Linked DNA regions of Homo sapiens: regions 1 and 2 are each linked to region 3. The links come from fine-mapping of genetic effects on gene expression. A gene starts in region 3. Each other region holds a variant in brackets. All regions are shown on one strand. Distances are from middle to middle.

Region 1 (2,758 bases), 42 kb before region 3:
TCATCTGCGCAGAGATAGGTTTGCCCCTTAGTGCTCCCCTCCCTTGTTTCTCACAGCCTTGTTTGAGCTCGACACCCTCAAAGGAGAAGTGCTAACTTTTCAACTCAAAGAAAGAAGATTGTTTCACGACCAAGGTCCCTTGATTCAAGTGAAGAAGCAATCTGTCTTTATTATGAGAAACTGGGGAGGTGGGGCCAGGCCAGACTCATGTCAGAAGGCCCCTCAGTGAGAAGCGAAGAAGCAATCTGTCTTTATTATGAGGAACTAGGAGGTGGGGCCAGGCCAGACTCATGTCAGAAGGCCCCTCAGTGAGTGCAGCCCAGGAGACTGGTCACATTCTGGGGTTGCGGAAGGGCCTTGGCTGCATTCAGTTTCTCCACATCACTGTAGCAGTACAAATTGGGACCATGGATGAGGTACAAGCCGGGACCATTGGCGGAACATGAGTTAGGGCCAAGGGACTTTTCCATACACAAGGCTCCGTCTACCTTCTCATGGGGCCAAGGAAGCTCTGTCCACGTGGCTTGGGCTCCTGACTTCAGGTCCAGCCACCACAGCCGCCGTCCTGGGGAGAAGGCACCAAACATAGCATGGCTTCCATGTCATGGGGATCCTGACCTAGGCCTTCTCATGCCCTGGGGATCCTGACCTAGGCCTTCTCATGCCCTGGTGGGGATCTATGCCACAGACAGGTAGCAGAACAAGCTGCCCTCTAAGCACCCAGAAGCCCCTCACCTGCCATGATATGGAGCCGAGAAGACCCAGGGCAGATAAAGGCCGCATCCACAGAGTCCAGGATAATCCCATGAGGGGTCCCGACTTCCTTCTCCAGCCGCTTCGGATAACCGCTTACTAGGGTATAGCCTCCCTTTGTCAGGAAGACATATACCTGGGTGCCCTGGAGGACAAAGGATGGTAATAAATACAGAGTTGGATATGCTTGTCCCAGTCTCTACCTCAAGCCTCTCCCCCAATACACACCTGGACCAGATAGAGTTTTTCTTCCCAGGAAAAGGCAGCATCCACTGCTGAAGGACCCTGGGGCCACTGATGAGCAATGGGCCAGCTATGCCAGCCATCCCGGCTGGTGTCCAGACGCCAGTAGTGGGTCCCTGTGGAATACCATAGGTTGCTCTAGGGCCGCTGGCAGAAGCCCAGGCAGAGAAGAGGCTAGTGATGAATGCAGAAATGAGTCATGAGAGGGAGAGAATGCATCCAGAGGCCAAGATGGAAGAGGCCAGGTGAGAAGGAGAAATAGAGCAAGACTTGGTCAGCAATGTTGGGCACTGTGCCCTGGCTGAAACTGGA[A/T]TCAGCAGGTGCCTGAAAGAAAGGCAAGTGTGGAAAACAGTGGCTAAGTTTCCAGGTAAGGCCAACATCATGGGGTTGGCGGGCACTCCCTAAGGATTTCAGGTGTCCATGTACAGAGATGCGGTTATAGATAATGAAATACAGTGTCCAGAACTTAAAAAGGAAGCACCACTTCTACTGAATGTTCTCACTCTGGCTGTGTTCTCCAGTCTCTCCCTATGAGGTGGTGGAAGAGTGAGGGAGTAGCTGGGCTAGCACCCCGTTTTTCTTCTCCTCTTTTCACAACAACTTATTAAGGAATTATCTAGGCTCCCATTTGTCTTTTTTCCTCAATCCTCTTCAATTACACTTCTGTTTCCCTCAACCATTGAAATTGTTCTTATCCAGGTTGCTAGTATTCTCCAATTTGCGAAATCTCATGGTCAATTCTCTGTTCTCATCTGACCCTACCTCTCAGGAGCACTGGACTGCTCACTACTTCCTTCTCCTTTAAATGTCTTTTTTTGGAACTTGGCTTCTGTGACACCTGACTCTCCCAGTATTCCTCTTATCTTTTTTGACTACTCTTTTCTTCAACCTGATATCTAAATATTGGAATCCCCTACTTTGGGCCTCTTCTCTTCTCTCTCTACCTTCACTTCCTTGGTAATCTCACCTAGTCCAGGGGCTTTAAATGCCATCTATATGCTGATGACTTCCAATCTGTTCTCGTCAGCTCTGACTGACCTCTCCTTTGAGGTTTAGGCTCCAAATCAGCTGCCTACCTGACATGCTTATGGGGTGCCAATAGGCACCCAAAACCTAATATGCCCAAACTGATTTCTGCCCCCCACCAACACACACACTCCCTAGTCTTTCCCAATTTTAGAAAACAAAACCACCAGCCACTCAGTTGCTGAGTCCACGAAAGCTGAGTCATTCTTGAAGCCTCTTTTCCCTTCCCTACTCTGACTGATATCATTCATTCATTCATTTATTTAGAGACGGAGTTTCACTCTTGTTCCCCAGGCTGGAGTGCAATGGTGCAATCTCGGCTCACTGCAACATTCACCTCCCAGGTTCAAGCGATTCTCCTGCCTCAGCCTCCCAAGTAGGCTGAGATTACAGGCATGTGCCACCATTCCCAGCTAATTTTGTATTTTTAGTAGAGACGAGGTTTCACCATGTTGGTCAAGCTGGTCTCGAACTCCTGACCTCAGGTGATCCACTCGCCTTGGCCTCCCAAAGTGCTAGGATTACAGGCGTAAGCCACCACACCCGGCCTATCTTAGCTATTAGTTAATGCTGTCAGCTCTACCTCCAAAATATATCATGGTGATTCCTCACCACCTCTGCTGCTATCATCCTAGTCCAAGCGGTCATCACCTCTAATTTGGACAACTGCACGGATTGCTAGCTGGATTCCTTGCTTACATGCTTGTACTTTTATAACTTATGTTCTGCAAAAAGT
Region 2 (2,758 bases), 29 kb after region 3:
GAATGGGATGGAACTGGGAGCTCAGCAGGGCTTGCATGGGGTTAGGGATAGCAGTTTGAGAGGCCTGAAAGAGGTAGCTGTCTGAGGACTTGTGTGAAGACATCAGGCAGAATGAGCCCACAGCTGATTGGACACCAGGAACCCGTAGAGGAGCAAATGTCCTTGGTTTTGCGATCTTCTGAATATACTATATAATATAGGACTTTGCTGAGAAAATGAACCTATAAGAGCAATTATACCATTTAAGATGTCCTGATCCAACACAACAGTTCATCAAGGACATATGTATAAAGGTTATAAACCATATTGTTGATATGAATTCTAGAATAGGATTGCACTGTTATCCCTGGGGAAACTTGTGTTGATCTAAGTTTGGGTCAGTTAATGATACTGGTATATTCTGACTGGCTAAGTCTAAGTTAAATCATTCCAGAGTTTTTTTTGTGTGTGTGCTCTCAGGTCTCCCCAACTAAAAATTATTAGTCATTCACTTTTGAGTTATTGGTAACTAATTTCCATACCAATTTTGTTGACCAGAATGCAGAAGAGTAAGAGGATGAGTGTATTGGTGCAGGCTTGAGGGGGCCACCATTGGATCTTGGCAGGAAAGGAAAGAATATGAAGCTAGAGGTTGGGTGATGGTAGGGGAAGAGCAGAAAATGTAACAGGCATGGAGATCATTCAGGGTTGGAAAGCAGGTATAATGGAATCAAAGATAGGATATTAAATCTGAAAGGCCAAGAAGGTTGAGCTGGGAGGGGAAATCCAGTACTGTGGGCTTACAGAGCAATGAGTTGGGAAAATAAAGTCTTCCCATTATTTGTACACAGTATTATGTAATACTGACTTCATGGTAATTCCAATCAATCCAGAATGATTATTTGTTTATCAGAAAGGGAGAGGTTGCTCACACACATGTTTGTGTCAATATTGTTGCCTAACTGTGTTCTATGATACGCTATATTTGCCCAGTATGTGGTATCTTTGAGTATAGATGGTAGTCAGGCTCGACAATGCCACGTCAGGTCTCCTCAGGCACCTGATCTAGTCCTCCTTTCACTAGCCAACAGTGGCAAGGCCTCCCTCTAAGGTACTTGACCTTTTTACTCTGCCTTTTCTCTCCTGATTTTCTGTCACACAGGTCTCAGCTTGACTATGAAGTTCCCAGGGAAAAGGCCTTCCAAAAGAGCAGCACCGGCTTTTCACCTGAGACTTCCTTCCTGGATAGCCAGGTGATGACTGCTCTGAAGATGGAGAGATACCTGAAGAAGATCCACTTCCTCTATCTCAATGTGGCTCCCAGCCGGTACTTTAGGTGATAGCCTATGTCCAGGCCCCTTCTCCTCCCCCTGCCTGGTTTCCTTCTATGCTATCTTCCCCCTCCTCTTTCTCCACGTGCGCACCCTTCTCCCTGTCCTTTCTCCACATACTCCTCCTCTGACTCTAGTGTCCCTCTCTCTTCCCTTCTCCTCAGCCTCCTCCTCCTTTCCACTCTCTACCTCCCCTTCACTCCCTGTTGCTTACACAGCCTTTTGTCTTACACATCCTTTTCTCACATTTTGCTCTTTCTTTTTTATTCTATCCTAGAATGATAGAAACATTTGTTCACAGCCTTAGAAGTAAATTTTATGGTGATCTATTCCAACTCCAATGGAAGAAACATGTGTTTGTTTAAATCTTTACAGTGTCAGGAAAATTTTTTTCCAGGTATCTT[G/A]TTCCTTAGACTGAATCAAAATCTGCATTCTTTTAACTTCTACCTCCTGGCTCTAGTTTATCTATGGGGCTATAAAAACAGGTCTCCTCCTTCCCCATGACTCAAGAGACATTTATTCACTTCCTCTCATTAGATCCAAATCACACCTACTTTTAAAAATTTCTTCTTATTATTTTGAAGCAAGGGCTCACTCTGTCACCCAGGCTGGAGTGCAGTGGCACAATCATGGCTCACTGCAGTCTCAATCTCTCTGGCTCAAGCAATCCTCTCACTTCAGCCTCCTGAGTAGCTGGGATTACAGGCATGAATCACCACACTCGGCCAGTTTTCTAAAATTTATTTTTTGTAGAATGAGGTCTCACTGTGTTGCCAGGCTGGTCTCAAACTCCTGGGTTCAAGCCTCAGCCTGCCAAATTGCCAGAATTACAGGCATGAGCCACCATGCCTGGCTCAAATCCTCGCCTATTTTAAAAAGCCCTATTCAAGTCCATCTCCTCCCAGAAATAATTGTAATAATTGCCTTTAACCAAACTCTTCAATATATTAGGCATTGTGCTAATAAACTCATGACATGTGTTACTTAATCCTCATCTACCAGGTAGGTGCTATTATTATTTCTATATATGAGATGAGTGGACTGATACATAAGAGAGGTTAAGTAATTTATCCAAAGCTACATAATAAATGGTGTAACTAGGATTTAAACCTAGGACTATCTTAATCCAAAAGTTCATGCTCTTAAGCAGTATCTAATACAGCCTCCCAAATAACCTTATTTCCTGTGCACACTGATCTCTTGAACTTAGGTAGCACTAATGATCAATATCATTCATTCATTTACTGATCAATTCATTTAATAAATGTTCACTGAGAGCATCCTGCTGGTTATTAATTGATTGCCTCTTGATTCTAATTCTCCTCCTCCCTCTCTGCTTTGTGATACTGGGGCTGAGATTCTGCAAACTTTTTCTCTTTTTTCAGCTGGCCTTCTATTAGGTTTGATTAATGGAGAGTGCTGGGAGACTGGACAGCAAGATAAGAGGG
Region 3 (2,758 bases):
AAGTGAATAAAGTCCCAAGAAGAGAGACCTCTGCTTAATATAAGGAAGCTTTTCCACAGCAGAAAGTAGCAAGTGCTCTGTCACTGGAGGCATACAAGCCCAAGGAGGCAGGGCTACTGTCAGGCCTGCAGCTCTGATTCCAATTCTGCAGCAAATCATCCCCTGCTTAGGGGATGAATGGGCACCAGTGAGCTAGACAGACTGGCCAAGGGAGACCTGTGATGTTTTCTGCACCTGCTGTGACCTCCCAGATGTGATCTTCCTGCTAGGGCCAGTCCTGAGTTTCTGTTGTCCACATCAGAGAACCCCCACACCAAGAACAAGCCCAGGGCCTGCCCTCAGTCGAACTGACCTCCCTGGGGTGCAGCCTGCCCCTCCAACCTGCAACCATCTGTCCCTGCAGGTTTGCAGCCCAGGATCTGAAGCCAATTGCAGAAGGGAGGAGGTCAGAACCAGGGAGGGGCCTGGGGTCCTCCAGGCAGGGCTCAGGCTACAGGAGAACCAGAGGGGTCCTTTCCTACAAAAAAACAGCCTCCACATGAGGCTTTCTGTCCACAGAGCAGTGCATGGGGAGGAAAGGGTGTCCTCCATCCTGACTGGTGGGCCTGTGGGTACCAGAGGATGGAAGGGGCGGGGGGTGGGGTAGGGTGGGGGTGGGGGAGCAAGGGGTGGAGGTGTCTGCACCAGGGAGAAAAGAGCCCTTCAGACAAGATGGGCCACAATATTCCAGAGTCCCACTCAGCACGCACCACCACCACCACCCTCGGCCGCAGCGTTCAGCACCCTCCGCCAACACACACAAGCTCCCAAACCCCGCGCTCCCCTAAGGAACCATCACCCATCCACCCGCGCCTCCCCGCCTCAAAACAGGGACCTCACGTGAGCAGCCACAGCCCGAAGAATCCCCCTGCTGCTCTCACGGACATGGACACGCCTCACGTGGGCAGAGAGAGGCACAGCTTTTGAAAATCATCTGTGCCCCCACCCACAGACGCTCCGACCCAGACCCGGGCTGACAGGAATACAAACGCACCCTTGGGGCCCGCCCGTCGCACTCACCGCGTTGGAACAGGATGCGAGGGCAAAGCTCGGACTGCGGCCACTCTGAAGGGCCCGCGGCGCTGCTACTGCTGCCAGCGCCCGTCCGCCCGGCCCTGCCCGCGCCTCCGCCTGTCCCCGCGCCGGCGCCGCCGCCGGACTAGCCGCACAGGCCGGAGGGAGGGGCCGGGGCGGGGCTGCGGACCGGCCGGGGGAGGGGGTGACTCCAGTAGGGAAGACCCACCCACGCCCCGCCCGCCGCCGCGGAGGCCCCGCCCACCCCGCCTGCCCACCCCTACCGCACCCGCACGCCCCCCCGCCAACGCCTCCACCTCCTGCGGACGCTGCCTCCTTGGTGCTGCTAGGGAGCCGGCGGGCCGGCGAGCCGGATCCCGGATCTCGGATCCCGGATCTCCGCCAGCTGCCTCCGGCTCCGGGAAGGGCGGTGTAGTCGGTCTCAGGGATTGAGATGAGACTCCGTCAAGAAAAGGCAGCTGGGGCAGCAGGGATTTCGGACTCTGGGAGCCTGTCTGGGCCGCCTGCCTCCTGGAGGCGCCCTTTCCGGCTTCCTTGGAGTGCTCCTATGGAATATGCTAGTCTATCGGCTGACCAGGAAGACGTAGAAACCGTCTGTACCTCAGCACGATCTCTGGGCGGCAGAAGGGCAGTACCCAGAACTCTGGGAGAAGGAGTTAAGGGGTAGAAAGGTGGGGGATTTGATTAGGCTTTGGGCGCTTCAGGAGCCCCCTCCTGAGGAAATTCTGGTTCAGACCATCCAGCGACTCCCTTCCTCACACCAAAGACACTGGACAATTCTCAGAATCATCGCCTTGTGCAAAAAGCAGCCCCAAGTGGAAAATAATTGTAACAGTTTACAGGGACTGAGTGGTTATTATGTGCCGACACAGAACTAGCCACTTTACATATATTATTTAATAGTCAGTAGGTAGCATCTTTTATTAGCCCAATTTTACAATGGGAAAAAATAGGGATCTTGCTCCCCAGACGTTAGCCCTCATCACTCAGCTAGAAAGTGGCAGAACCTGGAGTTGAGCCCTGTTTTTAGGCCCTACAACCAGCATTTGGAGACTCGGTACCTTTCATGTTGAAAAATCCCCAGTGGCCCATTAAGTGGCAGCTCATATAAGGACCACCTTCCCTGCCCCAAAAATCAAGCTCTAGTCAGATGATTGCAGGCTGATCAAAGCCCAGAAGACTGTCTGGGAGCTGCAGTATCCATGACAAAGGGCAAAGTCATGCCTGTGAGGATCCCTGCACTATGGGAATCTGCTGAGTGGGTCTTCCCCTTCCTCCAGCCTTCCAGAGGTGGGGAAAATCCTGAAAAATTCTGGTTTCCTTGGCCAAAGGGCATACAGGTGATGACACCTAGCCCTGACTAAACCAAAGTGCTGTTAGGGATCTTTCTTGTGACCTCTCCACAAGGTTCAGATTTAGGCTCAACACCTGGGTGCAGCAGGAGCTTTGGGAACCGCCTCAACCTCTTATCCACCTGAGTTCAGCACATAGCACAAGATGCTCCAGTGCTTGTGAAGGAAACCCAGACGGGGATCATGCTTGCAGTTTTGGGCTGGGGCTACTATGCTACCCAAGATGAGGGAACTGGAGTCTAGATGACACTATCTTAAGCCTCAGAGGACTACTTTTCTCAACTCTATACTTCTCCCATGCAGTCAAATTTCTGCTTAAAACACTTCTCAGC

Alleles and levels. Alleles are on the strand shown, and positions count from the first base shown. SD is a standard deviation of normalised expression in the study named. Not every link is listed here.
As copies of T replace A in region 1, the expression in tibial artery of the gene that starts at base 1,210 in region 3 goes up (moderate effect, 0.63 SD a copy in GTEx).

The links. PIP is the estimated chance that this variant, and not a neighbour inherited with it, causes the effect. A credible set is the group of variants that fine-mapping cannot tell apart.
Region 1: its variant is the best candidate, but not a certain one, in a credible set for the expression of TRIM3 in tibial artery (GTEx, PIP 0.80).
Region 2: its variant is the best candidate, but not a certain one, in a credible set for the expression of TRIM3 in nasal epithelium (TOPMed, PIP 0.61).

Annotation. Positions count from the first base shown.
Region 1 is chr11:6,430,906-6,433,663 of GRCh38, forward strand. HPX (hemopexin) reads right to left here. Exons shown (of 10, transcript NM_000613.3): 8 at 982-1,112; 9 at 736-898; 10 at 144-565. The coding sequence ends at 306. Among named protein-coding and RNA genes, the nearest start is that of HPX, 8.7 kb to the right of the region's middle. The variant A/T (reference allele first, on the strand shown) is at 1,309.
Region 2 is chr11:6,501,612-6,504,369 of GRCh38, forward strand. It overlaps DNHD1 (dynein heavy chain domain 1), which reads left to right. Exons shown (of 43, transcript NM_144666.3): 4 at 1,142-1,315. Among named protein-coding and RNA genes, the nearest start is that of DNHD1, 5.7 kb to the left of the region's middle. The variant G/A (reference allele first, on the strand shown) is at 1,715.
Region 3 is chr11:6,472,732-6,475,489 of GRCh38, forward strand. TRIM3 (tripartite motif containing 3) reads right to left here and starts at 1,210. Exons shown (of 12, transcript NM_033278.4): 1 at 1,060-1,210. RefSeq lists enhancers at 1-810, 811-1,749 and a silencer at 1,107-1,336.